Regions from separate parts of the Homo sapiens genome. Here regions 2, 3 and 4 are each reported to be linked to region 1. Evidence: microRNA targets listed by miRTarBase, many of them from high-throughput screens and not tested one by one. Region 1 holds a microRNA gene; each other region holds the end of a gene's coding sequence.

What was found. Region 1 holds the annotated microRNA hsa-miR-4480 (AGCCAAGUGGAAGUUACUUUA, at 4,359-4,379, shown strand). A microRNA usually pairs through its seed, bases 2 to 8, with sites in the 3' UTR of a target mRNA and lowers its output. Matches are read on the target gene's strand: a 7mer-m8 pairs with bases 2 to 8, a 7mer-A1 pairs with bases 2 to 7 and ends in A, and an 8mer does both.
Region 2: miRTarBase lists MED28 as a target of hsa-miR-4480. The part of its 3' UTR that is shown has no 7-base or 8-base seed match.
Region 3: miRTarBase lists FXR1 as a target of hsa-miR-4480. Seed matches in the 3' UTR shown: 8mer at 5,609-5,616, 8mer at 4,743-4,750 and 7mer-m8 at 1,891-1,897.
Region 4: the mRNA of AIRIM is a reported target of hsa-miR-4480. Seed matches in the 3' UTR shown: 7mer-A1 at 710-716.

What each region holds. Positions count from the first base shown.
Region 1 is chr10:12,574,438-12,582,359 of GRCh38, forward strand. MIR4480 (microRNA 4480) reads left to right here and starts at 4,316; the gene lies at 4,316-4,386. All of the region lies in intron 2 of CAMK1D (calcium/calmodulin dependent protein kinase ID), which reads left to right.
Region 2 is chr4:17,622,980-17,629,979 of GRCh38, reverse strand. MED28 (mediator complex subunit 28) reads right to left here. Exons shown (of 4, transcript NM_025205.5): 4 at 1-6,379. The coding sequence ends at 6,182. It overlaps FAM184B (family with sequence similarity 184 member B), which reads left to right. Exons shown (of 18, transcript NM_015688.2): 18 at 1-674. Among named protein-coding and RNA genes, the nearest start is that of MED28, 12 kb to the right of the region's middle.
Region 3 is chr3:180,974,556-180,982,477 of GRCh38, reverse strand. FXR1 (FMR1 autosomal homolog 1) reads right to left here. Exons shown (of 17, transcript NM_005087.4): 16 at 7,074-7,165; 17 at 1-6,356. The coding sequence ends at 6,186. Among named protein-coding and RNA genes, the nearest start is that of DNAJC19, 11 kb to the left of the region's middle.
Region 4 is chr1:37,675,551-37,683,472 of GRCh38, reverse strand. AIRIM (AFG2 interacting ribosome maturation factor) reads left to right here. Exons shown (of 5, transcript NM_001350770.2): 4 at 36-154; 5 at 313-1,903. The coding sequence ends at 350. Among named protein-coding and RNA genes, the nearest start is that of AIRIM, 11 kb to the left of the region's middle.

The DNA of each region.
Region 1 (7,922 bases):
ATTACAGGTGCACACCACCACGCCTAGCTAATTTTTTTTTTTTTTTTTTTTTTTTTTTTTAGTAGAGACGGGGCTTCGCCATGTTGCCCAGGCTGGTCTTGAACTCCTGGCCTCAAGTGATCCACCCACCTTGGCCTCCTAAAGTGCTGGGATTATAGGTGTGAGCCACTGCATCTGGCCTGGGATTCTTTCTTACCTCCTTTGCTGACTTCTTCCTCCTCGTGTTAGTCTGTTCTCACACTGCTATAAAGAACTACCTGAGACTGGGTAACTTATAAGAAAAGATGTTTAATTGGTTCATGGTTCTGCAGGCTGTACTGCAAACATAGAGGCTTCTGCTTCTGGGGATGCCTCAGAAAGCTTCCAATCATGGCAGAAGGAGGAGCAAAGTGTCTCACATGCTCCTCAGGAGCAGGAGCCGGAGCGTGAGTGAAGGAGGAGATGCTGCACGCTTCTAACAACCAGATCTCACGAGAACTCACTATGAGGAGAACAACACCAGTGGCATGGTGCAGAACCATTCATGAGAAACCGCCCTCCATGATCCAATCACCTCCCACCAGGCCCCACCTCCAACACTGGGGACCACAATCCAACATGAGATTTGGTGAGGACACGGATCCAACCCCTATCACTCCTATTTTTTTCTTTTTTCTTTTTCTTTTTATTTTTTGAGATGGAGTCTCACTCTGTTGCCCAGGCTGTAGCGTAGTGGCACGATCTTGGCTCACTGCAACCTCTGCTGCCCAGGTTCAAGCGATTCTCCTGCCTCAGCCTCGCAAGTAGCTGAGATTACAGGGTCCTGCCACCGGGCCCGGCTAATTTTTATATTTTTAGTAGAGATGGGGTTTCACCATGTTGGCCAGGCTGATCTTGAACTCCTGACCTTGTGATCCACCCGCCTTGGCCTCCTAAGGTGCTGGGATTACAGGTGTGAGCCACCACACCCAGCCATCACTCCTGTTTCTTAGCTGGGGACATTTAAAACAATTTGATATCCTGTCTCCTTTGCTTTCCAAATGTCCATCTCTGGAATCCCCCTTGGTTTGTCTCTCACTTTAATTTGGAGGACGTCCAGGGCAAAATCTCCAGCCTTCATGTCTCTCTAAAGCAGTGGTCTCCAAAGTGGGTAGACAAGATGGTCCATTGGGATGCAGAAAGAAAATGGTAGCACTTCCACTTATAATTTGATCTTTTAGAATGAGGAGGAAGTTAAGAATCATGAGTATTGTTTTGGATTGACAGTTTGTCAGGCAGACAGTCACAAGCCTGTGACTCATTCCCAGGGACCCGTGGACCCCCCAAGAATTCGCGCTCCTCTGCCTTGAGCTTAAGAAGACAGTGGTGGTTTGCATGTGGCTGGTTAAATGGATTTGTGGGTTGTATCCCCTAGTGTTACCTAAACCAACCTTCACAAAATAGACCAAGAATTTAAGAAGATTCCTGGAAGGAAACCATGGCTTGAAGATAATATTAAAAATGCAAGCGCAAGCACACAAGAGGATAATGAAAGAGCTCAGATTTCTGCTCCTGGGAGTTCTTTGTCAGTCATGTTACAAGGATAAAACAATTTAGTAACAATACAAATACAAATGAAATATTCAGTTTCATTGATCTCACTTAAAATACTCTCTTATTCATAACATTTTTCTAGTGAAAGCAAAAATGTGAACTGCATTGTTCCTAAGTAAAATAGTTTATTTATGTTGTTTCTTTGATCGAATTATTTAAAGTTTTAAGGCTGTGTAAGTTTTAAATTTACATAAGATATGAGTGCAGTGGTATCTCTGTTATAATTTATAAATTAATGTATCTATTTTGGGGGTTTTGTACCTGAGTATTTTGTACTGAAGGGGGCACATAGTTAACACAGTTTGGAGACTATTATTCTAGAGCAGTGGTCCCCAACCCTCTTGGAACCAGGGATTGCCTACATGGATGACAGTTTTTCCACTGACCGGAGGAGGGGGAGGGTGATGATATCAGGATGATTCATGTGCATTACATTTATTGTGTACTTTATTTTTATTATTATTACATTATAATATATAATGAAATAATTCTACAACTCACCATGATGTAGCATCAGTGGGAGCCCTGAGCTTGTTTTCCTGTAACTAGATGGTCCTACTTGGGGGTGATGGGAGATGGTGACAGATCATCAGGCATTAGATTTTCATAAGGAACACACAACCTAGGTTCCTTGCATACACAGTTCACAATAGGGTTCATGCTCCTATGAGAATCTTTTGCCACCAATGATCTGACAAGAGGCAGAGCTCAGGCGGGAATGCTCACTTGCCTACCACTCACCTTCCTGGTGTGCGGCCCGGTTCCACGGCCTGGTACTGCCGTTCTGGAGACTCGGCTCTGTATTTCTAGAGCTTTGTAGACAAATCCATGCTGGTGTCTGGCTTGGTCCTGTGCATGTCAGTCAGTGAGCACACCTGCATGCCGTCTATCTCAGAATGGAGAGCTGGAGTGTCTGGCAGAAAAGGAACCACATCTCTGCGAGTGACACAGAGCCCCAAAACCCAGCCTGGGGAAAGGGGTGGAGAGAGGCCGTGGAACCAGTTCCAGAACACTTTCACGTGCATCTTGGTTTCTAGCACGGACTGGGATGCCTTTGTTAATATGTGCCAGGCTGGGGCACTTGCAGGAGGTGACGGCCACCTTGACTCTGTATGCTGAAGCCCTCTGGTCACTCACCCATGTATGCTGCAGTCCCCCCGGCCAATAACACAAGCCAGGACAAGCCCAGGGGAGGTCCCCGGACACACAGCGAAAATTCCTGGCTGGTTCTGTATGTCGCCGTGTTGGGTTCCCAGCCCAGTTCCAGCTCTAGGCTTGCAGGTCTCTCACTAGGAACTATGCCTCCAGCCCTTTGGTGGATTAACACCTGCCACCTCCAGTTCTGAATCTGACCTCTCCCTCTAGGCCTCCAGCCTGGATCTACCCAGTTCTGGATTCAGATCGTTACAGGCCCAAAGCACTGAAACATTGCAGAGCACATTGCTTTTCTTCTTTATTTAAAGAACTAAATTAAGCATTTTAAACCATATAATAAATGTAAAGAGATCCAACAAAGTTCTGTTTCTGCCATTATTACTATATCATGGCTATTTCGGAATGATCAAATAGGAGATTTTTTTTTGTTTTCAAAAAGTCTCTGTCTTTCTCTTTTGTTGTCTGTATTTTGCTGCTAAGCCACCAGTTCTCGATTGGTTCACTCCCTCTTCCTGCTACAGATTGTCTTAGGGGTTCTATTCATGAGACTTCTGGAGACCTAAACCCCACTCCGGCCAATGCCCCATAACGGGGTATGATGCTTGGCTGACATCGTTAACTCAGCCCCTCCAAGATTATGCCCATTTTCCTCCTTCCCCACCCACGTGGTGTCCTCCTTGTTACCTTTGCTAATGTCATTCCCAGGATCCCAGTTATCTACGTAAAAAATCAAAGATGGAATCTCCACCTATTCATCCAATCATCCATGCAGTCAACAAATTGGTATTCAATGCTAACAGTAATATTGGCTAACATTTATTAGGCAAGCACAGCTGCCAGCGTTTATATTTGCATTATCTTACATCCTCACAGCAACTCTGCACGGAAGGTATTGTGATAGTCTGCTTTTTATTTATTTATTTATTTTTAGACAGGGTCTTGCACTATTGCCCAGGCTGGAGTGTAATGGCACCATCATGGCTCACTGCAGCCTCGACCTCCCGGGCCCAAGCGATCCTCTCACCTCAGCCTTCCAAGTAGCTGGGACTACAGGCATGCACCACCTTGCCTGGCTAATTTTTTAAAAAATGTTTTGTAGGGCTGGGCACAGTGGCTCACGCCTGTAATCCCAGGACTTTGGAAGGCTTAGGCAGCCAGCACTTGGGGAGGCTTAGGCGGATGGATCACCTGAGGTCAGGAGTTCGAGACCAGCCTGACCAACATGGAGAAACCCCGTCTCTACTAAAAATACAAAATTAGTTGGGCGTGGTGGTGCATCCCTGTAATCCTAGCTACTCGAGAGGCTGAGGCAGGAGAATCGCTTGAACCCGGGAGGCGGAGGTTGCTATGAGCCGAGATCGTGCCATTGCACTCCAGCCTGGGCAACAAGAGCTAAACTCCATCTCAAAAAAAAAAAAAAAGTTTTGTAGAGATGAGATGTAGTCTCTCTAGTTTGCCCAGTCTGGTCTTGAACTTCTGGGCTCCAGCAATACTTCTGTCTCAGTTTCCCAAAGTGCTGGGATTACAAGCATGAGCCACTGCACCGAGACCGATGACCCACTTTTAACAGCTGAGAAACCTGACCATTGCAGAGGTGAGTTGACCTCCACAGGGCCACCCAGGGAGTAAGTAGCCAAGTGGAAGTTACTTTACCTCTGTGATGATTTGCACCAGTTCAGTTTGACTTTAGAGACAACAAGCTGAAGCTCTACACTCGATTGACTGTTTTCAGGTGCTATGTGAACACGGTGGGTAGAGACGCATAGCACATGAGCCCTGTGCTGGGGAATGTGCAGTCTAGTGGGTGCCCAGAGGCACGAGCAGAAGACAGCAGCCCTTTAAGAAGTGCCATATGCTTCAAGGGCATAGGGAAGTGTGTCTGCTCCAGGGAAGGGGCTTTCACCGAGAAATTGAACAGAGCTTCAAAGAGCAAGAAACAATTGGCTGGGTGGGTGTGGGAGCGCGAGGAGTCCTCGGAAGGCGCCTGAGTGAGGCTGTGGGTGTGGAACAGCATGGTATGGGCAGGGAACAGCATCGTGGCTGATGCAGGATGAGGGGAGCATTCCTCTTCTTGTTCCACTTCCTGGGTCTGCAGTTACAGAGTCCTGCATAGCATTCCTCATATCTTTCCCTTCCTTTCCTTTCCTTCTTCTGAATCCTGTGTTGGGCCCCGTGGCCTTATCTCTGGACAGTTGCAGCAGCCTTTTCTCTCCACTTCTTCTCATCCATCATGTATTACTTAAGCCAATTTAATCATGTAGCTTTCTTTGATCATCTTGTTCTCTCCATTAAAGAGTGGCTCTCCATTGCCTTTGGAATGTGGTCAGACCATTGAGTCTGGTGCTCCAGGCCTTCTGTATTTGGGGGTCAGTCTGTGTTTCCTGCTGGATCTTTCATGATGTGTCTGTCTCTTCCCACTGGAGCAAACAAAAATAACTTTCTCTTCTCTCCATCTACTACTCTTTTTCCCTGTACCCTTTTCTTTCCCTACCTGTCAAAAATCTTGACCATCTCTCAAGCTCGCTCCAGTGTTACGCAAACATGAAGCCTTCCGGACCAGACCAGTCACAATTGTCTCTCTGTGCTCTTAGATGCCTTCACTGTGATGGGGACCGTGGGCTGCACCACCCTTGTCATGGTTCACACTTCTTAAGCGAGAGGTCGGATCTCTTCTCTGGATCTGTCTCCATGAGTTCCCACCAAGATAGGTTGGAGATTCACGGAGTGGCTTTGAGTTTCAAAAGCCAGTTTTGAACCTGCTTGTTGCCCTGGCTCAGGTGGAATTCTTTAGAAAAGTGTCCACTCTCAGCCAGGGTGGAATCCTTTAGGAGAGTGTCTGCTCTAAGCTTTTTCCCTTGGCCTCCACTGGGGCGTTTTTCCTTCAGCAGAAAACCCATGATGCCATCTCCTCTGGGGAGGAAAATACTGCTCTGTGGAACCTCGCAGGGCCTTTCGGCACAGCCAGAATTCCCTGGTGAGAGGTTTCCTAAAGGGTTAGTCATTCAGACCTGGCTGTGTGAGCCAGATCTGTCCTGTCTTGAGATAATTCTTAAGGCTACGATTTGCTCGTCAACATCATCTGTAACTAGTTTCACTAACAGATGTTTAGGAATTGGGCATCTAGGCTGTACCAATGTATCTGGACTAAAATATGCCCCTCCCTCCCTTCCTTCCTTTTTTTTTTTTTTTTTTTTAATATAGCTTTAATGGGAGACTGGAGCCTGCTGTTTCTCACCCCTTGTCTCCCGGGTGACAGTATTTGGTGTACAAAGCTAGTGACTCTGCAATTGTTGAATTAGCTACAGATTAACTCCTCTGAGAACTTGGTTTCCGATGAGAGTGAAACATGTACTTTGTATGCAGAACTCTTACTCTTCAAACAGGACTTATTAACTAGAAGAAACTTCACTTTGTACTTGAAAAATGGAATGTAAATCATAAAAGATTGTACCATTTAAGCCCCACTAGAAAGAGAAAAACAGAAGTCATGGAGAACCACATCCTGTTCATATGGACCCCAGCCTAAGAAGAATGCAGGAGTGTGTGGAGAGGGTCCTATGGGGAACCCCAGGAATGGCCAATGGTGGGAAATTAGGTTCTGGGAAATGTGTGTATTGTTTTGAAAAGTATTATTTTACCTGGAGAAATTGAACAACTGACATCAGCTAACATATATTTATTATTGTGTTGAATGGCCAGCATTCTGTGGGGGCATTGTGCTTTTTTCCTTTATTTTATTTTCATAGGTTTGGGGGAACAGGTGGTGTTTGGCTACATGAATAAGTTCTTTAGTGGTGATTTCTGAGATTTTGGTGCACCCATCATCTGAGCAGTGTACACTGTACCCAGTGTGCAGTGTTTTATCCCTTACCCATCCCCACCCTTTCCCCCAAGTCTCCAGAGTCCATTGTGTCATTCTTATGCCTTTGCATCCTCATAGCTTAGCTCCCACTTATGAGTGAGAACATACGATGTTTGGTTTTCCATTCCTGAGTTACTTCACTTAGTATTATGGTCTCCAGTTCCATCCAGGTTGCTGCAAATGCCATTATTTCATTCCTTTTTATGGCTGAGTAGTATTCCATGGTATATATATACCACGATTTCCTTATCCACTCGTTGATTGATGGGCATTTGAGCTGGTTCCATATTTTTGCAATTGTGAATTGTGCTGCTATAAACATGCATGTGCAAGTATGTTTTTTGTACAATGACTTCTTTTTTTCTGGGTAGATATCCAGTAGTGGGATTGCTGGATCAAACAGTAGATCTACTTTTAGTTGTTCAGGGAATCTCCACACTGTTTTCCATAGCGGTTTTACTTGTTTACATTTCCACCAGCAGTGTAGAAGTGTTCCCTTTTCACCGCATCCCCACCAACATCTACTGTTTTTTGATTTTTTGATTATGGCCATTCTTGCAGGAGTGAAGTGGTATCACACTGTGGTTTTGATTTACATTTCCCTGATCATTAATGATATTGAACATTTTTTTCCTATGTTTGTTGGCCATTTGTATACCTTCTTTTGAGAATTGTCTATTCATGTCCTTAGCCCACTTTTTGATGGGATTGTATTTCTTTGTTGCTGATTTGTTTGAGTTCCTTGCAGATTCTGGATTTTAGTCCTTTGTAAGATGTATAGATGGTGAAGCTTTTCTCCCACTCTGAGGGTTGTCTGTTTACTCTGCTGATTATTTCTTTTACTGAGCAGAAGCTTTTTAGTTTAATCAAGTCCCATCTATTTATCTTTGTTTTTGTTGCATTTGCTTTTGGGTTCTTGCTCATGAAGTCTTTGCTTAAGCCAATGTCTAGAGGGGTTTTTTTGATGTTATTTTCTAGAATTTTTATGGTTTCAGGTCTTAGATGTGAGTCCTTGATCCATCTTGAGTTGATTTTTGTATAAAGCGAGGGATGAGGATCTAGTTTCATTCTTCTACATGTGGCTAACCAATTATCCTAGCACATTTGTTGAATAGGCTGTCATTTCCCCACTTTATGTTTTTGTTAGCTTTGTCGAAGATCAGTGGCTGTAAGTATTTGGCTTTATTTCTGGGTTTTCTATTCTGTTTCATTGGTCTATGTGCCTATTTTTATACCAGTACCATGCTGTTTGGGTGACTATGGCCTTATAGTATAGTTTGAAGTCAGATAAAATGATGCCTCCAGATTTATTCCTTTTTCTTAGTCTTGCTTT
Region 2 (7,000 bases), not on the chromosome of region 1:
CATGCTTCCATAATTTTTTATTGAGGCCATATGCCTTGGGTATTGAAGTAAGGCATTTAAGGACACAAACTTAAGCTTTTTGTTTGTTATTACCAAACTGCCATTCAGAAAGTTTCTAACAATTTACACCCTTACCAGCAGTAAATGAACCTACTGTGCCCTAACACTATTGACAAAGAAATACAATTTGATAGATAAAACATTCTATTTTAGTTTGCATAATGATTCCATCAATCTCTCAACAGCAGAGCGGTCTAGAGATGACAGTGATGGCGTAGAGGTGACAGTGAAGATGAAGAGAAATTATCCAATTCGGGATTAAGTTAAGAGAGAGAAAAAAACAGTATTTAATGGTAAATCTCTTCAGGCTGTATTATGACAGGGGTGGAAGAGTTAATATGTTCCTGCAGCAAAACTGAAAGGAATACTATCTGTTCCACATGAAAGCAAACTGTTTTGTAATTGGGGTAGGTAAAAATGGATTCACCCAGTCAATGGCTGCACACCACATACCTGAGCCCTTAACTGCTCTAACACTGATGTAATATCCAACCCAACATTTGTGATTGAGGCTACTTGGTTAATTTTTCTCCAGGATCCATCTGGATTCTGCAGATGAGGCTGGCAAATTAAATGGAACTATGATAGGGACCATCTTACTGTATCTGTCAGATTTCCAAGGGTAGCACTGATCTCTACCGTCACCTCACCTCCACCCCCAGGATGCAGTACTGTGTGTTTGTTTTTGAGACGGAGTCTTGCTCTGTCACCCAAGCTGGGGTGCAGTGGCGCCATCTCAGCTCACTGCAACCTCGGCCTCCCGGGTTCAAGCGATTCTCCTGCCTCAGCCTCCCGAGTAGCTGGGACTACAGGCACCCGCCACCATGCTAATTAATGTATTTTTAGTAGAGACAGGGTTTCACCATGTTGGCCAGGCTGGTCATGAACTCCTGACCTCAAAGTGATCCTCCAAGATAACGACAGAGGCCCCGGGCACTCACAGTCACCTCATCAGTTCCTCACTATCCCTCTGCAGGGAACAGACACTCTACTGTCCTTGTGTGCAGTACTCCTCTTATCTTCCACAGTTTGACTCCTCCCATTCCCCTCCACAGGGATATTTTCCCAGGGTACCACTGGTGGAATCCTCAGCAACTGGGCCACCCCCTCGTGTGAGTGAGTGTCCATACCTCACACGCTGCTCCAGATGGGTTTTGCTACCAGTTGGGCAGTGAGTGAGCCAGTCCCCAAGCCTCATCCTACTGCCTGCTCTCAGACCACATCCAGTCACAATTGTCTCAGTCAGGTCCTCCACCAGGCATGCCCCGAGACACAATTAGAAGTGCAAGACATTCACTGGGGGGTGTGAATGCCTTCAGCCAAAGCCCACCAGAAATGCCTGTATTTGAACAAGTTGGGTCTATTCATCACAGAGAACCATAGGACTTCTCAGACAGAGGGTGTCACAAAGAACCTCTTTTAGGATTCTGGCCCTGGTTGGGTGATTTCAAGGAAGTGAGGATTCACTCGATTGGATGCTGTCAGAATGGGGGCACTGAGCATCTCAATACATCTTATTTATAGGAAGGTGGACTAGAGTAGGGATAAAGGTATAATTGCATATATATATATACACACACACATATATATATACACACATACATACACATATATACGCATATACACATACACACACACACACACACACACACACACACACACACGGCAGCTGTCACTCGTTTTAACCAGCAGAAGGATGTTTGGTATTTTGTGAGTGGTAAACTGACCTTGAATTTTCTTTGTACGTGCTTAGACAAAATTATTAAGTGGTTTATTTTATCATGGCCTGAGAGCAACTTTGGGGTTGGCATTCAGAGACTGTTTATGTCCAACAGGAGAATGGCATGACCGAACAGTGTTGTCAGCTTCTGAATGTCAGGGACAGGTGGTTTTTTTCTTTCTCAGGAGAAACACCTATGTTAGAGAAAGGGGAGAGGAAACAGAAGACAGGAAGAGCCTATGATGTAGGTCTGACAGGTGGGCCAAGGAACACCGGGGCAAAAGAGGGCAGGACAGCTCCAAAGATGTCATGGCCAGGCTGATGGAAGCGCCCAAGCAGACTGCTCAGTATTTTTTTATTTTTTATTTTTTGAGACGAAGTCTTACTCTGTCACCCAGGCTGGAGTGCAGTGGCTCGATCTCGGCTCACTGCAACGTCCACCTCCTGGGTTCAAGCGATTCTCCTGCCTCAGCCTCCTGTGCCTGGCCTCAGACTGCTCATTAGAGGAGGCCTGTGTCGGGCAGAAATGGCCTAGCACCTGACCTCCACTGTGCTTGGTGACAGCCAGGACCAGCATGCCCTGGGCAGGAACATGGCGGCAGGTCCCCAATGCCAGGAGCTTTTGTAATTGAACTCCTTGAAGCTGCTTTCTTGAAGGGAGGACTGAGCAGTGCTCCTTCACAACCTCCAGAGGCCCAGGACCAAACACCTGGGAATGTTAACAGTTAAGACATTTGGGTGGAGGAGAAAAGAGGAAAGAAGGGAAGATGCATGAAAAAGAATTAAGTTCAAGTAAAGAAGATGAAGATGGGCTGGGCACGGTGGCTCATGCCTGTAATCTCAGTACTTTGGGAGGCTGAGGCGGACAGATCACTTGAGGTCAGGAGTTCAAGACCAGCCTGGCCAACATGGCAAAACCCCATCTCCATTAAAAATACAAAAATTAAGGCTGGGCGCGGTGGCTCATGCCTGTAATCCCAGCCCTTTGGGAGGCAGAGGCAGGCGGATCACGAGGTCAGATTGAGACCATCCTGACCAACATGGTGAAACCCCATCTCTACTAAAAATACAAAATTATCTGGGTGTAGTGGTGTGCACCTGACAGCTACTCGGGAGGCTGACGTAGGAAAATTACTTGAACCCGGGAGGCAGAGGTTGCAGTGAGCCGAGATTGCACCACTGCACTCTAACCGGGCGACAGAGCAAGACTCCATCTCAAAAAAAAAAAAAAAAAAATAGCCCAGCTACTTGGGAGGCTGAGGCAGGAGAACTGCTTAAACCTCTGGGAGGCAGAGGTTCTTCTGGGAGGAATGTCAAATGGCTGAAAAGGTCACCCACCAGCTTTGATGTCGGGTGGCAGGAATGTCCGGCAGGAGACAGTGCTGCCAGCTGCTGTTTGTAGAACACACAGGCTACCTGATGGCTGGGTGGGCCTTTCCCCAGCACTTGCCTGTGGGACCCCGTTGTGCCACTGCACTACAGCCTGGGCAACAGAGCAAGACTCCTGTCTCAAAAAAAAAAGGCTGTCCTGAAGATGTGAGTAGGTTTATCTGTGGAGAGAGATAGCCCACAGGCAATCTGCATCTTGGAGCCTGACAAGGAAGCTAAGCAGTATTCAAGAAAAAAGGCCTTCTTGGTGGAACTTTCTACCTTTCAAAGAGCTACCACACCCAAGACAACCTTGGCTTCTTAAGAACACCCTGGAACCACAGGTGGGTGGGCTGTTATCAACACACTGACCAGGGAAGAGGGGTGTGAAAACTCACTTCAAATCCTGCTTCTGCCAAAGGTTAAAGACTAACCTCTTGACTTTGGGCAAATCACTTAACCCACCTAAATCCCATACTCTTCCTCCATAACCCTCCTCTTCCCGAACAACAGAAATCACTAACACCTGAAGAATACTTGCTACATTCTAGCACCCTTGCTGACTTCCCATTCAACATCTCCTTTTTCTTTTTTGAGACGGAGTTTCACTCTTGTAGCCCAGGATGGAGTGCAATGGCACGATCTTGGCTCATCACAACCTCTGCCTCCCAGGTTCAAGCGATTCTCCTGCCTCAGCCCCCCAAAGTGCTGGGATTACAGGCGTGAGCCACTGCACCTGGCCTCAACATCTCCTTTAATCTGCAGAAGTAATCCTGGGGAATAGGTCCTAGTCTTATCCCTATTTTACAGATTTATTATCCATCTGTGAAAATGGGAAAAACAATATTGATTCTGTTATAAGGCTTCTAGAAGACTGAATGGGATCATTTACAAAATGTGTGTGGCACAGATGTTTGTTTCAAAGTTGAAAGCCTGAAGCCTGTGGGCAGACCTAAGGTCAAGCACCAAGCCAGACCAGAACGTACCCCTGGACAATCACAGCAGGAGTCTCTTCCAAGACATAATACTCCACTCCCCAGTACCAGAGCAGTGCTTGGCAGAGGGCATTCCACAGGTTTCTAGGGGAACTTGAGAAGATGGCTTGTGATTTTCTCCCTGAAAAAGTTAGCAGCTCAGAGGGTTTCTTAGAGGATTATTCATCACCCAGTAAGATGTCTACAAACAGAGAAGATTGAAAAATTGTTATTTGGCAAAAAAACTTCTGAATTTAATAAAGAAATGGCAACAACTGGTACGTACAGTAATTCAAAATCTTTTCACTAAGCACCAAATAGGATAGTTCTCAATCTTCTCAAGAACCTCTTTGAAAGAACGCCTAAAACCTAATCAGTTTATTTAGGTTTTTAGTCAAGAAATACAAAGCTGCCAATCAGAGTTTCTAATTACCATGAGTGACCAGGTTAGCAACCTTGAGGTCATACCACATGAGCTTTTAAAAGCTTTGTTTAACCTATACGTTGTAACTGAGGGGATTTGTTGATGTCAGGCTGGTAATCAGAGATCCATGTGCCAGATACCATATACACACACCAAAAAGATACAGATTATATGGTCCTTATATATTTAAGGAGAATAATGTCTAATTCTCATGGGTGTAGAATTAGTGAGGGGCAGAGAGACAGATACAAAGCACTAACCCACCAGGGAGAACCTAGCGAGGGCAACAGAAGAGATCAAAGTCCTGTGCCCTGGGGATGCAACTGAATGGGTGCTGGGAGGCTTCAGGGATCAGGCACATGAGTGGATGTCAGTCCATGTGGGAAGGGGCCTTCAAGGCTGAAGACAACAAAATGAGTCAAGGCACAAAGCCACAGGAGTACTGCCAATCAGAAGACAGTGAAGCATTTGTTCTGGGTAAAGGGATGTGATCTAATAAGATATAAAACTCAGAAAACCTTACCCAATGAGAGCCAGAAATCTCCATTTCTTAACAGCAACTCAACAGGGAATCTGAGGCTGCCCACAAAACTAACGAGAGCAAAATACCCTCCCAAAGGCAGGGCACCACATGCTCTCTGTGGAGGCTCAGTAGCCAATGATCACCCTGCAGCCCCTCCCCACCCCCACCACGACACTCTAGTCCCTTGGAGTCAAATCCACTGGCAACAACCTTCCTTAACGGAAAATGTTTCCCCTCCCAAAATGTAGAACAAAAATGATACACGCAAACAAAACTCAAAACAGAAAGAGACAATCAGAGCAAGATTTAGCCCCTCACAGCTCACCTATGACCCCACTGTCATGCTACTGAAAACAGTGACTGACCCATTAAACAGATTCATTACTGCAGAATGTAATGAATGTTAGCGTATCACTGCTCCCACTATATCCTTCTATGTCAAAAAAAAAAAGTAAACACCACATAAAATATAAACATACCCCAAACAGAAGTCAGCATCAACCTAAGGATCCTACTGTAAGATTACTATACTAACCCAGGACAGTTCCATCGTCTTCTGACCTATTTACAAAAAAATCCTCATTCTGAGAGCTCTGGAAACATTACAAATATTGTATTAGATTCCTCTTCTTGAGGTAGTTCAAAGTCTTAAAACAGAGCAAATTTACATACTTTTCTACACACCACCGCGGGGTAATTATCATAAGGCCTACGACTAAAACTCCCATCTCCTGATTCTCAGGCTACTATACTCTTTTCCTTCGGATCAAACTACAGGAAACACACATAAAAAGATGAAAAGTCATGCAAAAATTTAAAACAAGCAAAGCCACCATAAAAAAGAATCTGTGTCATCATATTCACAGTCTAAACTTTGCTAAAGACAAAAAAAAAATACTTACTTGGTTTATCCAAGCTACAGACATGTTATAAAGTACTCAAGAAATTAACAGCTTATAAAAATAGTGGAAAATTTTTCAATGGGAGCATAAAACTAAAATGAACTCATTATCTGGCAAAGAGTTCTTCCAAAATGTCAAGTCCACAGGAAGGAATGTGTGGCCAACCTCACGCATCAGCCCACTCATAGGCCAACTGCCTCTGCCCTTTGCTCACGTTGGCTTCAGAGGTGCAGGGATGTTGGCAGATGCCTGCTCCAGGTAGGCCAAGGAGCCCTGAGGGATGTCGGCGGGCTTTTTGTGCTGCACGTTGATGTCCTCCAGCACCTGCTGCCAATGCCTCAGCTTTGTCAAGTGCTTCTGGACTAGTGCATCTTTCCGCTGTAATTCATTCCTTAGTTCTGACACATCCTGCAGATGAAAGTCATGGACTAAGTCAGAGCAAATGCAGGAAAAACACATACGGTTCTGGTTAGTTAAGAGGCTAACAATTCAAAACAAAGAGAATCCATTAAACCATATTAAGCCCATTACTCTGCTTGGCTCCACTATTTGATTAACCCAGATGACAGATTCTAACATAAGTTTTTATGGGCTTTTTTTTTTTTTTTTTGAGACGAAGTCTTGCTGTCACTTAGGCTAGAGTGCAGTGGTGCGGTCTCGGCTCAGTGCAGCCTCCACCTCCCGGGTTCAAGTGATTCTCCTGCCTCAACCTCCTGAGTAGCTGGGATCACAGGCACACGCCACCACACCCAGCTAATTTTTATATTTTTAGTAGAGATGCGGTTTTGCCATGTTGGCTAGGCTAATCTCGAACTCCTGACCTCAAGTTATCCACCTGCTTCAGCCTCCCAAAGTGCTAGGATTACAGGCGTGAGCCACCACACCCGGCCTACGTTTATTTTTCTTATAGAAAGTAATATGCAAGTTACAAAATTCAAAAGGGCAGCCAAAAAGAAATCAGATTGATATGGTTTGGCTGTGTCCCCACCCAATCTCATCTTGAATTGTAACTCCTACAATTCCCATGTG
Region 3 (7,922 bases), not on the chromosome of region 1:
GAGCACATTTTTTTCTTGCATAGTAATCAGTTTTATTTTCTCCAGGCTTACCTTTTTTAAGTAGAAGAATCCGTGTTTCATTGAAGGCTATTAGGCAAACTGAACATTTAAATGTTATCCATGTGAGGGCTCTAGATCATGTAGGTGATTGATACAAATACGATCCATAAAAAAACTTTTATCTTTTGCTGGTATTTTCTTACAAAATACTTGGATCTGTAACATTTGAGTACTTACAGTGTACTAGCACTGTGCTAAGTATTCTTCCCTTATCTCAGTAGACTAGTTATTATGATGTACATTTTACATGTGAGGAAATGGAAGTTTAGTAAGGTTAAGCAGCCAAGGCAACATGCTGAGAATGGCTGATCTTTCTCAGATCCTGAGTTCCGTTCTCTTAACTTTTTGTACTATGGCCTTCACAATTCTGATAACCTAAGCATGTTTTCCTTGATAGTACTGAGATGTGAGTCTAGTACTTATCTCTACAGATCTAGCTTGGGGCCTTTGTCTTTACTCATTGGTGCTTCCAGATATATTTTAAAGAAGGCGGCATGATTAAACACACTTTGGGAATGAGAGGTAGGTTACAAGTTAAACTTCTGCAGAAGCCAGGTAAACAGAAGCCAGGTAAATCTGAGCCTCGAGGCTTCAGCTTTCTCTGTAAAAGGGAAATATACATGACCAACTTGAAATTGTGAAGATTCTTCCACATTTTATGGCTTGGGAAACAAAAGTCCAGAGCAAATGGTCTTTTTTCTAAGGTCCCACGGCTAGTGAAACTAAAATTAGGTCCTTGGTGTCTTCTCCAATTTGCTGTTCATATTAGTCCTCATTAGAAGTTTGTGGGGAATTCCTATCTATAGCCTTCACATTAGACCTCAATATCAGAGATTTTTGTGAGTCACTTAGCCTCTTCCCTTGCCTTTACTGGCCATCTGGGTTGACATTAGAAATGAGTCCTAAGGTGCTGTATAAAAACTGCTTTGTTGGTAAGAAGTGAGCTATAATGGGTTGTCCTGGAAGTTAACTCTTTCTCCACCTTTAGTTTTAAGCAAGTTCTCCTGCCATCAAGTATTTTCCAAATGATGAGAGTACTTACGGAAACATTTAAATGGAAAACCAATGAGAACTGAGAAAAATTAGGGAACTAGCTTCTTAATATATTGCCACACTGAAAGCTGTATAAATTCAGTATACTGAATATGTATGCCCCCCCGTAAAGAAAACCTAGTATCAGAAATGTCTAAAAATAAAATTTCACGCAGGCATAATGCTTCATTTAAAGGGTTAGAGGGGTTTTAGGTTAGAATGCAGAGTTCTGTTTCAATCATGAGAAATTCTATAAGGCATCTTTCTGTTGACAGTGACCTAAAAAAAAGGTTTTGCAGTTCAGAAGCTTGTAGTAGGTTCACATTGAGTGCACAAGAACCTCCAAACATGTTAAATCTGATGAAAATTTAGAACATGAATCAACAATGTCAAAGAACAGACTAAGCTTAAAAAAACAAAACCCTGTAAATTTTATGTAAACAAAGTAAAAAAAAAATTACAATGTAGAATGCTCTCCTAGGTTTTTGGTTATGTAAAGTATCCTGGAATGAGTAACCTTGAGTACCAGTTAACTTGAATGACCTAAGCTCTGGTTTTAGTTTTTGGACTGCTGTACAGTGTGCTGTTTATCAGCTTAGAGCCAACTACTGCCTTAGCAACAAGATATATATAGGAAGAGCTTCTATCCTGTGTCACCTATTATTCCTGACCCAATAATAGAACAGTCCAATGATATGGGATAATCTGTTATGGTTAACATTTGCTAACACCTTACAGCAGTTTCAGTTAATGAAATTTCAAATATATGTTTACATTTTTCTTTACAACCTGAAGACAGCCAAGTTAGCTGAAAAAGGAAGCCTAGAGGTTGAAATGTAAGCAACCAAGCAACAATTAAGTATAAATTGTTTATCTAGAAAAACTATTGGAAAATATTTTTAATGAAAATGGTCTCTAAAACTAGAAAATTAATATGTACATTTTACAGTTAATCCAATTAAGAGGGTACAAAGGGGTAAAAAAACTTTCCCAAAAAAAAAGAACATCCCAATCACTGAAATACAAAGAAATTCAAGAAGCTAATTAGTAGCATACTTAATAGTGGGGCTGTAAGACTTGTGAAAAATTACTTTGTCCTTGTTTGGAATATCTTATAGATTGCATTCAGCATAGTTGAAAATGTCTGGGATGGATACATATGTAAAACAAACACCACTTAAATTCAGCATACTCCTTATGAGAATACTTGGGCATTTGGTTAGGTGTTGCTCAGGGTCTGACATGTGACTAGACTCAAATTACTACTGGAAGGGCCTTAAAGATACCAACTAGGCCAGCCCTCTCTGGTTGGATAAAATTGAAACCATAGAGAAAAAGTTAATAGAGCTAAAATAGCAGCTTCTAATTCTGTACCATTACCTAAAGCATCTTTTTGAATTATCAAAGGAAGAAATAAGCAAATGGACTGTGGGAAATCATCTTACAAAACTAGAATATAGTTTTTCCAGGGGAATTTTTGTGTACCTTACCTCAGTACTGGAAATAATATTACAGAAGATACAGATGAATCTGAAATGATACACTGATAAACTTTTTAAAAATTTGTAATTAGACTGAACCATAAGAAACTGTTAATAGTTGATCATTTTTGAGCCTTACAAAAGTGGTAATTTCCTACTGTTCAGTGTAATGGACTTAAATCAGTTTTAACACCACTTGCTAACAGTCTGACTTTAGCAGATTGCAGTTACTGCTTTATTGCAAAAGCTCCTGAAATAAAACCCAAATACTATCAGAGATTAACATGGGTTATGAGCAACTACAGTCCATTCAAGTACACGTTCTAATAAAGAACTAAAATTAAAAAAAAAAATAAGGGGCTAGCAAATTCACTATAGCAGACAGATATTCTTAACGAAAAAGCGTAAGGGATCCAAATCGTGTAGCAAAGACAGGAAGACTGAGACAGTAACAAACATCCTTTTCTTTGAGATTTTTTGCCAAAACAGTAGATTCACAGTTCAAATCCAAGTTCCTTGAAACTTTACAGAAGAAAATCCAGGTGTAATTTTCCTTTACTGTAATTCTTAACCACCAATCATCTGTCCCTGGACATAGCCTGTTTTCCATGTTTATCTGTCCTTAGGCAACAGCCCATGAGAACACTAGTTGGTTTGAGCCTCAAAAGCGTAAATCTGTTTGCAGAGGATACAAATGGTGCTGTTTCCCAGTCCAAGATTTAGTTAACATACCAACTTCTATAAGACCCTCCTTAGGTTACAAAACGCTAGACACAGCTAACAGCAGCTACAAAAATACGTGACTTAGCACAACAGCAATGGAACCCAGCATCATCTCAGGTAAGTTTCTGTGAACTCACCAGTTTGATGTGCTGCTTCTAATTCCACATTAAAATACAAGATTATTTCAAAATAAAGATTTGTGTATTCCTATTACACTTTTGCCAATTATTTCTGAAGTGTTACCAGAGACACCATTTTGCACAAGTTGTAGCCCCCTTTAAGGCTTAACAAAGGTGATGCCTAAAGCAAGAATCCTAGGCCTCCCAAAGCTTCAGGAAAAGCAGGTCATTTTTGCCACCATATAATCTCAGCTGTTACTTCATGATTCCGTTCAGGTGTCATATATGAATTCACATATATATGCTGAAACATTGTTGCAACTGCACAAGATCTTCCAGAATACCTTTTTTTCCTTCTCTTTAAAGAGGGTCTCAGTGGCCCAGAACTGAGTTCAAATGATGCTCCCACCTCAGGCTCCTGAGTAGCTAGAACCAAAGACATAAGCTACTGTGCCAGGCTCCAGAATACATCTTTTGCTTAAGTGTCTGTTTAGTGTATAGTGGCAAGTTCTTCCCATAGCAACATCTCACCTAACTAGGATAGCAGCCAAAAAGACGGAACCCTCTCAAATACATTTAAAAGGCTACCTGAATTAATGGCTACCCTTTGGGGAGTGGGGCTCTCTAAAAAAACAAATGCGTATTTATCACAATTCTGCACTACCTATATTTTTTAAAGGACAAGACATTGGGTTTAGTCATTTGTAAAGTAATGAACTTAGTGTGGTTATTGCTAGAATGAAGAATTGGTTCAGCTATACTCACTCTTTTAAGATTTTGTTTCTTCCATTCCCATTGAAACCATCTTTATGGAAAAGGGATGTTTAATATATCTGACTATTCTATGTGGGAGAAAATGAAAAGTCTTTTTTTTTTTTTTTACACCATATTTACCAATTTGGCATTAATTAAAATTCTTCTAATACCTTATAATTTTTAACCCAATTATGTAAGAGAACTGAGACAATTTAACCTGTTGCTAGCTTTGATCGATTTAAAAAAACACATTTGTGGGTAATTTTTTTAAATATCAGGACATGAAATTACTTGATATCTTTATATATAAAGGACAGGAGTTGCACTACTCACACCTTACTTTAAAATTCTGTTACCAAGAACCAATCAGAAGGCCTCAGGAAAAAGCACGTAATACCAGCACATTTTAACCTTAATCAGAATAATTTGAGGGCTAGGGTTATATATACTGAACTGGCACATTGTACATTTTTAACTATACCCTGAATTATCCTTCAGAGCATATAAATTAAAATCACATTTTTATGCACATAAAAAATTAACACAAACTATGCACACAACACTTTTCATATGCCAAGTGATAACAAAGGGCTGTCATTCTTGTTCAGTGGTCCATATAATATTGTGGAACAAAGCCTTCCCCTATGTCTAACAATTACTTGACCTCACAATTAGCTGTACTAACTGTTGTCCATTGTTAAACTTCATGTCTTTATCTTCATAAAAATTAAGCTCTGGCTAAAATATATACATAAAGTTTAATAACTGATTTTTGGTCACTGATATGAGAGCCTTCAAAATAAGTTGAGAATGAATAAAGCAAATCATTGGCCTATTATTTAAAAATTGCTTGTCATCCCTTCTATCCCCCATTGTCTTCCAAAGTTGCCTTTGATTAGAATTTTGTTAGGTTTTTTTGCTAATTATCACATGTATTATTAATTACCTATGCATCTAACAGCCTAAACTTGTGTAAAGATTTCAGATGATTCATTACAAAATGATTAAATGGCCAACTGACATTTTAATGCTATTTATGAGCAAGTATAAATGCTTTTTAAAAAGCAAAGTATACTATCCTAAGCCTATTAATAGCTCCAACTATTTTGCAACAATTGGTGTAAAAAGTAGAAAGTTAAAAAAATTCAGCAAATGGAAGATCAAAGTTTATTTACTACCTGCATACAAAAACATATTGCACATCAAACAACCGAAATAAAAAAAAAAAAAAGGAAAAAAAAAAGATACTCTACTGAAGACTAACATGTAGTTTATACAGAATAAACCTTCTGGAAATTGATCTTTTCAGTAGTTCAGGTTATGTCTGAATGGACATGACTAATTCAGCTTAGTGTTTTAACTAAAGCTATGTTTGATTTTTAAATACTGTACACTTTAATAAATAAACCAAACAAAGCCTCAAGGTAGAACAGTCACTGCCAAGTATCGCCCAGTGTCCCTGCAGATGAGAGTTTAACAAATGTATTCCAGTGGTCTGCAGATTTTCCTCTACATACAGCATTTAAAAAACACATTAAAACAGACCAGTTTCCAGACTAAACTAATGAAGAAATTACAATTCAGTGCAAAATATTTTAGACTGCATTTCATTCTAGTTTTCCTCAGGTGAAGAAGTGGTTGCATATTAAAAATGTAACAAAAGCAGCTAATGCTTTCATAAAGAATATTACGTTAGGGATCCCACCCCACCCACCACCCCCCATCTCTGCCATATTTTGAAAACAAAATAACATTTCCTATAGCCAGCAACTTTTTTTTAATGTTACATATACTATTCTCAAGGCACATCTGATGATATATTTTATAACACAGTAGGTGTCAAAGTATGTTTAACATATGATTTCTTCAGGATCCCTCCCCTTTTTGAATTCCAAATGGAGGAACTGAAAGTGCGATGTAAAGACTGGCGATCCATATTCTATCTTTGGCAAGCTTGTACAAGCACTATTGTAAATGTAATGTAAAAGAACTGTAAACTAGGAACTTCTTCAGTTTATGAAACACCATTCAGGACTGCTGCTTCTTGAGTGTTTTCTTCTTTTAAGGTATTAATCTTTTCTTCTCCTGGAGTACGCTGTAGCTTAGAAATGTCATCGCCAGAAGCACTAGTTGGGCCGTTTATTGCCTTTTCTGAAGGACCATGCTCTTCAATCACATCTTTTGCCTGCCAAAGGGAGACAACTTTTTCAACTTCTTTATAAATGAAATCTATAGCTGAGGAGGAAAACAGCTACATAAACACTAATTAGCTAATTAAAAATTTCAGTTTTATATACCACAATGGATCAAAGTATTAAAACATCTTTAAAATTCAAAACAAATAACAAAGTATTCCACTCTATGGGTCTTTCAACTTTGTATCTCTAGTACCTAGCAGTGCCCAAACCACAGAAAACATCTAAACTAATGAAAACTGTACCTAATTTTAAAACACTGGAAAGCTCACCATGAAAATGACATAAACAGTTAATATTAAACAAATAATCACCTACTTTACTCACCTTATTTTGAGAAATCACATTTACATATCAAATACTGTAAAGCATTTAAAAGAACTAAAATTTAAAAGGTCTATATCCATCAATGAGAAGAGGTATATAGCCTATTGCTCCTGAATTAGGCAATAGTCTCTATGCCCAGTATCTTTGGGCAGAATGAATTTTATAAATGCTATTTGAAGCTCTAACTAAAAAGTATTTCAGGCTCAAGCATGCATATCTTTAGTTACCTGGGGCCAAGAACATATTCAAGAGTCTTTAACTAAAATAGTATTGTCTATTTGTGGAAACAAGTGATCACACAGTAAAAGTAGTAAAAAAATAAAGCTAAACCATACCAAAAATTAAAAAAAAAAAAAACCTACAGGTTAAATTCTCCTTACCATTTCTTTCTTGTTTTTAGCCAAAGTTTCCCTTGGGAGGTTTCTTTGTCTGCTCTGAGACTCAGCTCTAGAAATATAATCTGCAACTGTGACTGTTAAAGATGAGAAAAAAATTACAGGTGTTGAAAAAATATTTCTAAAGTTTATTTATGGATAAAGGGTAATTTCACTATTAAACTAGTGGTGGGTCACCCAGTGTCAAAATTTTCTTAAGCTGGGTATCACCTCCAACCAAAAACAAAGCTTTAAAAATCTACCTGGGCTTTTGGTGCTGAAGAAAATTTCAAGCTTGAGATTGAGGAAATCTAGATTAAATTCCTCTTTCCCAAGAATCCAGCTATTTGCTTCTGGTTGACCCTAATGTTGTGGAACAAAGTTGTTAGAGAAACCCACAACCAGTAAAAGGAAATACAAACGCAGTGTTCTAAGCCCAGTGTTTGCAATTATCGGGGAGTCGGGGGGAGGGGGGAATGGGGCAAATTTGGTCCAAATCACAGTATGATATACTTAAATTTGAAAATTTCAGATACAAAAATATTTACTCAAATGTGTGTGTGTGTTTTTTTTTAAAGCACAATTAAGATATCCAAGTGTGGTTTATTCTATGGTTTTGTTTTAACGTTTCACACTAGAAACGATTCTGAGTGATTAAAATAAGAAACTACAAGCAAACTAAAGATGACAGACCACCACCCTAAAAATGTGGACATTGATCAGAGTGGGAAAAGGTCCAGAGTGTATTCAATGACACCCCTCCCACACCCCCTTTGCCAATCTTGGTAGGGACGATCTGAAATGTGTATTTGCAAAGAAGTGGCAGTAGTGGATTAGGAAAAAGACTAAACCCAA
Region 4 (7,922 bases), not on the chromosome of region 1:
CATTTTCTTTTGAGCAGTCCTTAACTTCCAGAAAGGTACCTGAAGAGAAAGTATCTTCTTTCGTCTATCCAGTGGGGAGACTTGGCAAACATACAAGCTTTGCCCAAGGCCTGGGACCGAATTTCAAAAGACGAACACCAAGATCTTGTACAAGGTACTGGTTTGTGTTCTTCCTTTGTGTCTCCTCTCCTCCTTTCTCTCCCTGTGGCTCGCCTCTTTGGAAGCATTAGGAAGGTGCCCTTGCTGTGCCTCTGTGTGTTTTATGTTCTCGGGAGAGGTGATAATGCCATTTTTTCTGTCTTCCTATTTCAGATATCCTATTGAATGTTTCCTTCTTCCTGGAAGAGTAAGGAAGCTATGCGTATCTGGAGACCACGGGTACCACAGTTGAAGACTGACATTCTGAACCCTGATGTTTCTAAAGAAACGTCAGTATTTCAGTCTGACATATTTGAAACATCAGTGCCTTGAACCTTAGGACTGGGTCTTGGGGAGGATTAGCGCCTAGATGTCTGATTTTGGAGCTGCAGCATGCCAGGCCGTGGCTGAGAGTATGTGAGCCATGCCTTGCCCTTTTCTGAGGCTCAGGGAAGTGGATGGAGCTAGAGAGACAACAGGAAAGACGGTGCTGAAGAACATAGTGTCTTTCCTCTATTGTGGACCTAAAGAGGTGGGGAAGCAAGGACAAGAGGCAAAGAGCCACACTGCCCTTGGCATCATCCAAAGCATTGTCTGGTTGACACCAGGTCCTGGTTTTGTGTCTTTTGTCAATACCTGAATCCTTGACAAAAGAAAAAGTGGTTTTGATGATTTAAAGAAATAAGGGTGATTTTGACAGAAAATATATTTTAAAAATTTTGACCAATTGCAATAGTTATCCTCAAGCCAATTTCCAGAACCTGCCACCAGGGGGAGGTGGTGCAGCATGAATCATTCTGAATGCTTTGTCTTTGAAGTGTTCCCCTATTGCTGTTACCATCTCAGAGGAAGTAACTGGGCATGGTGAGACTCCTAAAATGACAGGAGTTTTTTTGGCCAAAGCTGGCATCTGACTTGCCACATTCCTCTGAGTCTGGAGTAGCCGCAGGGGTGGGAGAATGCCAGCCCAGAGTCAGTCCATCGGGGTTACATTTCCAAGGTCTGCTGCCTTCATCTATGTAATGGCCGTGTTACTTTCAGATCTTTCAGCTTCCCAGAGTGTTGTGGGAATCTTGGTCATTGAATGTAAAGGGACTTAGTAAAGGGTATAGATATTTTTCAAAAATGAAAATAACTTTTTTTCTTATAAGTGATAAGCTTTTATAAAGATCATAGGAAAACTAGAAAAAATGTAAAATGTAGAAAATTGTAAAACAAACTTCATTAGAGATATTTTGATAGATACCTTTTCAGTGTCTATTTACAAATTTTTTCTTTTAATATAGATAGGGTCTCACTATATTGCCCAGCTCACTCCTGAGCTCAAGGGATCCTCCCACCATAGCCTCCCAAAATATTGGAAATACAGGCATGAGCCACTGCTCCTGACCAATTCACAAATTTTTTTAAAGAACAAACGTGCTATCATCGATACATACTGTTAGGTTGTCTTTTTTTAAAAAACCTAATGTAATTTGTTCATCTTTTTATATCTGTAAATATAGCTCAACACAGTTATATTCTTTTTGTGAATGTATTATATCTACAATTTACCTTTTTTCTTAGATTTTACATGCATTTTCCCAAATCTTTGTGTTTGCCTATCTGTAAAGGTAATACATTCTGATTACAAAAAATGAAAATGTTACATAGAAATGTACCGTTATCCATCTACCAGATAACTATTATTAATAATGTGTATTTATTTTTCCAGGAATTAAAAAACATCTATCATATAAGTATTGCAAATAAAACTTAAAAAGCATTTAAGTGTCAAGTCTTATGTTGGGCTCTGGGGACAGAAATAAAAGAGAGCCCTAGAAAGGCTCACAGTTCCACCAGGGAAAGATTAATGTGCAAATAAGTCACTGATATCTTGTTAAAATTTGGATTCTGATTCTGTAGGTCTGGGATGGGGCCCAGATTCTGCATTTCAAACGAAGTCTCAGCTAATGGTCCAAGGACCAGACTTTGGATTGCAGAGACTTAAGTTGTAATACAATAATAAAAGTGTTATAGTTAAGGTAAAAACAGGTGCTGTGGGAGAATAGAGATGATAACTAATTGCCTGTGGAACTCCTTCTTGATGACAGTGACATTTGAGGTAGGCCTTGAAGGGAATTTTACCTGGGGCTAGGAGAGGGGTGCGGGGCATTCCATGCACAGGGGATAATCTAAACAAAGGCCATGTTTGAGGCAGGATGGAAGCCAACACTTGACGAAAGCTAGCTGTGTGCCAGGCATTGTGCTTGTTGCCTTTACCCTCCACAACTGGCAAATAATAGTTCAGTATCACAAATAACAAGTTCACAGATGGATAGAAGGATGGCAGGAAGTGGGTCAGTAAGGGTGGACTGGAACCAAATTGTGAAGAGGATTATGAGTCCCAGCTCAAGCGTTTGTATTTTGCTCTACAAGTGGGAGATGCTCGCTTATGTGTATGCATGTGTAATAAAGAGGTTTTTAAACCTCCCTCATAGAAGCAAGTAATGGCTAAGTAGAAACAAGCACGTTTATGGTGCTCAGTAATAACTATATAGTATTTAAGTATTGTTTTTATTTTGTTCCCTCTTAGCTTTGTGTCTGTTAAAATGCCATATTTTTCATTGTTCTTTTTAAATTTAAAATAAAATTTATTTTTTTGAGACAGAGTCTCACTCCCACCCAGGCTGGAGTGCAGAGGCACAATCTCAGCTCACTGCAACCTCTGCCTCCCAAGTTCAAGCGATTCTCCTGCCTCAGCCTCCAGAGTAGCTGGGATTACAGGTGCTTACCACCATGCCTGCCTAATTTTTGTATTTTTAATAGAGACAAGGTCTCGCCATGTTGGCCAAGCTGGTCTCCAAATCCTGACCTCAAGTGATCTGCCTGCCTCGGCCTCCCAAAGTGCTGGGATTACAGGCATGAGCCACCACACCAAGCCTGATTTATTTTTTAAGTGATATATCAATATTGTAAAATAGGTATGCAAGAGCATATTTAGGCTGGGCACAATGGCTCTTGCCTGTACGAGCACTTTGGGAGGCCAAGGTGGGAGGATGGCTTGAGGTCAGGAGTTTAGACTAGCCAGACAACCCTGTCTTTATGAAAAAAAGAGCCAGGTGTGGTGGTGTGTGCCTGTAGTCCTAGCTATCTGCGAGGCTGAGGTGGGAGTTTCCCAATTCCCTTCCCTGAAGGCAACCAATATTGAATGTTTCTAGTGTATCTTTCCAAAAATACTATGCCTGTGTGAGTGTGGTGGGTAGGTATCCTCAAAGACAGCCCCCAGTGCTCCCACCTCTGGTATTCTTGCCCTTGTGTACTCCCCTCTCCTTCCAGATGGGCTGGACTGACAGATATACTTCTTTTTTTTTTTTTTTTTGAGACAGAGTCTCGCTCTGTCACCAGGCTGGAGTGCAGTGGCGTGATCTTGGCTCACTGCAATCTCCACCTCCCGGCTTCAAGCGATTCTCCTGCCTCAGCCTCCCGAGTAGCTGGGACTACAGACATGTGCCACCACGCTCAGCTAATTTTTGTATTTTTTAGTTAGAGACAGGGTTTCACCATGTTGGCCAAGATGGTCTCGATCTCTTGACCTTGTGATCTGCCCCCCTTGGTCTCCCAAAGTGCTGGGATTACAGGCGTGAGCCACCGCGCCCGGCCACAGATATACTTCTGATGAATAAAATACTACCCAAGTGGTAGGATGTCACTTCTGAAATAGGTAAAAAAGACTGCAGCTTCCATCTTGGGTGCTCTCTCTCTCTCTCTCTCTGGGATCACCCACCCTGGGGAAAGGCAGCTGCGATGCTGTGAGGCAGCCATGTGGAGAGGCTCATGTGAGAGACCAATGCCTGCCAACAACCATGTGACTGAACTTGGAAACAGATCCTCCCTCCCACAGTTGAACCTTCTGATGGGTCCACAGCCCCTGCTGACAGCTTGACTACAGCCTCTTGAAGACCCGACCCAAAGGCAGCCAGCTAAGCAGTGCCCGGATTCCTGATCCATGTAAACTGGGATAATAAATGTTTTAAATCACTAAGTTTGGGGGCCATTTGTTCCACAGCGATAGATAATCACTACAACAAAAAAACCTCCCTTCATTTTTATATAAATGCTAACATACCATATACCCACTTTTGCACCTTGTTCTTTCTTACCGTATCTTGGAGTTCATTCTATATAAAGAGCTTCCTTACATTGTTTTAAACAGTTGCATAGATTTCTGTTGTGTGGGTAAACCATAATTTACTTAAAATAGCTCCTTAGGGTGGACATTTGTTTCCAAAGTCTTAATACCTATTGGTTTTTATAGTAGCAACCCGCCTGTACTCCCACTCTTGTTCATTAGGCCTCCCCTCCACCACCTGGAATTTTCCATTTAGCTAACCCCATCACCTTCCAACAACAAAAAATAAATTGTCAGTATTTTTTACTAGAATCACTAAATTGATAAACGAATTCAGGGAGAGTCACCACACTGGGAATACTTCTGGTGCTCCTCCTTTATGTATGCCACTGGCTTATGGATGAAGACACCAATGTGAGTTCTGTTCTGTTTTCCCTCAGCTGGGTCAGAACCCCTTTCTCTGTCAGTGTAAGACAGTCTTGGGATGAAATGAAGAATTTTGGTTTCCCTCTATCCTGTCCCTCCCCATCCACATCTAGAAACTGACCTTCAGATTCTTCTCTCAGAGTAAGTGTTGTCTCAAGGTGCTGGGGTGCCTGGGCCCTAAAGAGAAGGTCTCCTGCTTGCCCAAGGAGAGCCTGGGCTTTATGGGGACTGTATTACACCAGACTTTAATTGGGACGAGAAGCCAGGTACCTTCCCAACCTGCTCAAACACTGGATCATTTATAATTCCATTTCCCTATGAGAAGGGAGGAAGAGTGCACATTTCAGGGAGCAGGTTTGGGGATGAGGGGAAGGAAGGAACCTAGACCTGGGTTCAAGTCTCAGGCTCAGCCTTTAGCCAGCTGTGTGATCTTGGGCAAGTAATTTCCTCTAAGTCTATTTCCTCATCTGTATAGTGGAAGTGATGATATGTCCTTACAGGGTTGTAAGGTTTAAGCGAGAGGAGATAGTGAGGGCTTTGGGTACATTTGTGAGCATTTAAGGGATTGAAATTCACTTAAGCTTTATTAGTCACTCACTAAGTGTATAGCTCTGTGCTAGGCTCTTTAATATCTTTCTAAACCCTCAACGAGAATTGAAACAAGTATGCTTACTTCCATTAGGTAGATGAGGAGACCGAGACAGAGACCTGGTAAGCTTTCTAAATGCCCACAGCTTGTCAGTAATGTTGCCAGAATTTGCACCAGGGCTTGCTTGGTTCCGGTGAAAGGTGCTTTCCCCCACATCACTGTTGCCTTTCTGCCACAGAAGGCAAGAGCATGCCTAACATCTACTCAGCTGTAACAAGGGTGAGGTTTTCTGATACCCAGCCCTGCACAGGACATGGATCCTGCAGTGCAGAGCTACCTCCATCCAACTTGGCCGTGGCACATGAAGTATCCAAGCCTCTTCCAGGACAGCCGCAACCTTGCCAGTTACCCTTCCTTCTGACCCCATAGCCAAGAGGGTTGGAGCAAATCCTGGCGTGGTCTACCAGAGTCCTACACTTTTGCCTTTGATGCCAGGGCCTGGTAGGAGAAAGCCAGTGATTCTGAAGGAATGACAGGGGTACCCCTTCCAGGCACTGTCCTCCTCCCCATCCTTCCTGGAAGGCTCCTTCTTGGTTTCCACGTAGAGCAAAGTCATTTTTCCGAGACTGTAGGGCCCCAGCCCAGAGATTCTGGTCTAGTATGTGTGGGGAGGGGCTAGATATCTGCATCCTTAATAAGTACCCTTAGTTCAGTTGCAGAGTCATTCCTTAAGAAAGAGCCTTCATCCTGAGAAAAGGCAGCAGTTAGCACAGAGATTGATGGCTGGGTAGACTAGCCACAAAGACCGCACTTCTCTGGGGAAGAAACGCCTTCATAACTCCCTCACTGCACCTCTTTTCCCCTTTTTGTTGCCAGTCCTCAAGTCCAATGGGTACCTCGGCATTGCTCCCCTGGCCCCTCCATGCTGTTTGGGGTGGGATAGTCATAACTTATGTATATGGGGCTTTAGAGTCTGTCGCATCCATATCCATTCATTCTGAGGCCTCCCAGTGTGCCCAGCACAGAACTCATCATTAGCAATACAGAGGTAAATCAAAGAAGTCCATGATTTAGTAGGCCAGGCAGATCTGCAAGCTCTTCGTGAGAAGTGCTATTGTGAAGGATGTGTGGGGAATGCAGTGGATGGAGAGAGTGACTGATTGTTTTTGTGGGTTTTTGTGGGAGGCGAGATAGGGGAATGTGAGACTAGCTCCTCTGTGACTTAATTTCAGTGAGAGTCTTCCCTCTGGTCTCTAGTAGAGTAAGTGATGGGGGTGGGGGTCAGCCTGGCCTGCTGGCCATCATGTGAGCGGGGAGCAACCCTTTCTGCTCTGGCTCATCTCTTCTGATTGAAACGTGTGGAGCAGTTCTTAATTTGCACAGAGAGCCCAGACTAATAAATCCGCTACTCAATTGCAATTCCCACAGTGCGTTTATAGGCAACAGCTGACTTTTATCAGCTAGTTTGTTCTTTCATATAAGCAGAGTTTTATGAGGGTCTCCTGAGCTGGCTTGTAATGTGATGAAACGTCTGCAAAACTCAACCATAAATTCCTGGCACCTGCCAAGCAGAGGATGCTGTTTTCCAGGCACATTTTGTCCAGCTGGCGGCTCTGTCCCCTTGCCCAGTTTGCATTTTTGCACTTGTCTCTTTAAACTTGGATTTGTTTTTCAGTTCTCTGCGGCCTCTTTAAAGGCAACCGAAAAATGAGGGGTAGGAAAAAGGAACTAGAAAGTTACGTCTGTGCTAAAAATTACCCCTGGCTTATGTTGCTCTGAAAGCCAGTTTTGATCCCACTGTTGAAACAGAGACATCAGGCTTCCCTGCCACATGAACCCCAGGGCGGGGGACAGGAGGCCAGTGCCAGCCGAGCCCGTTATTAATACTTTGATTCTTTTCTGGGCCATCACCCTTTGTACTTGCCAAAGGCCCCTACCCTCAGTTGTCAGTTCTGTAAATTAAAGAAACAGCTCCGGAGGCCTTTTCCCCAGATGGTCTCCAGGCATGACATCTTTTCCCAGCATTTAGAGCTCCCCCAACACAGAGAGATGAAATTTAAATGCCCTCTGTCCTCCAAATAGGGCGAGACCTGGACTCTTGGAGAATGCTGTTTGGCTGGGGTGGACTGGGTCATTGGGAGAGCTACAAAGGCCTCAGTGGTGCAACTAGGAATGGTTGAGTGTGGCCCTGGCTGTGTCTCAGGATTACCCACCTGTGTTTATGGGTTCTCTTCATTTTGATCAGACCATTAGGTCAGAAGGCTCCTGTGGCTGCCCTTCCTGTGGCCTTATCCCCTGCTTGCTTTCCCTAGCCCACACTTCAGGGCTGGCTTCATGTGCCTGTGACCCACACTTACAAGGGTTCCCAAGGTTGGTTTCATGCTCTGCTGTCACTCTCGAAATTCTAAACAGTTTTCGAATGATTTTCCTTTGGCACTGGGCCCTGCAAATTATGTTGCCAGTTCTGCCCAGCTTCTCTCTGGTCCTACTGCTTGTAGCTGCCCCAGCACTGTGGACAGACCCTTTCTTCTCCAAGTTGAAGTTTGAGCCTTTGCAGAGCAGGTTAGTTACCCGTCATTGAGGCCTCTGGCCTTGTCCCCCTCCCAAAGGCTCCCTGTTATCCACTCTTCTGGCTACAGGCAATCCCTATTACGTGAC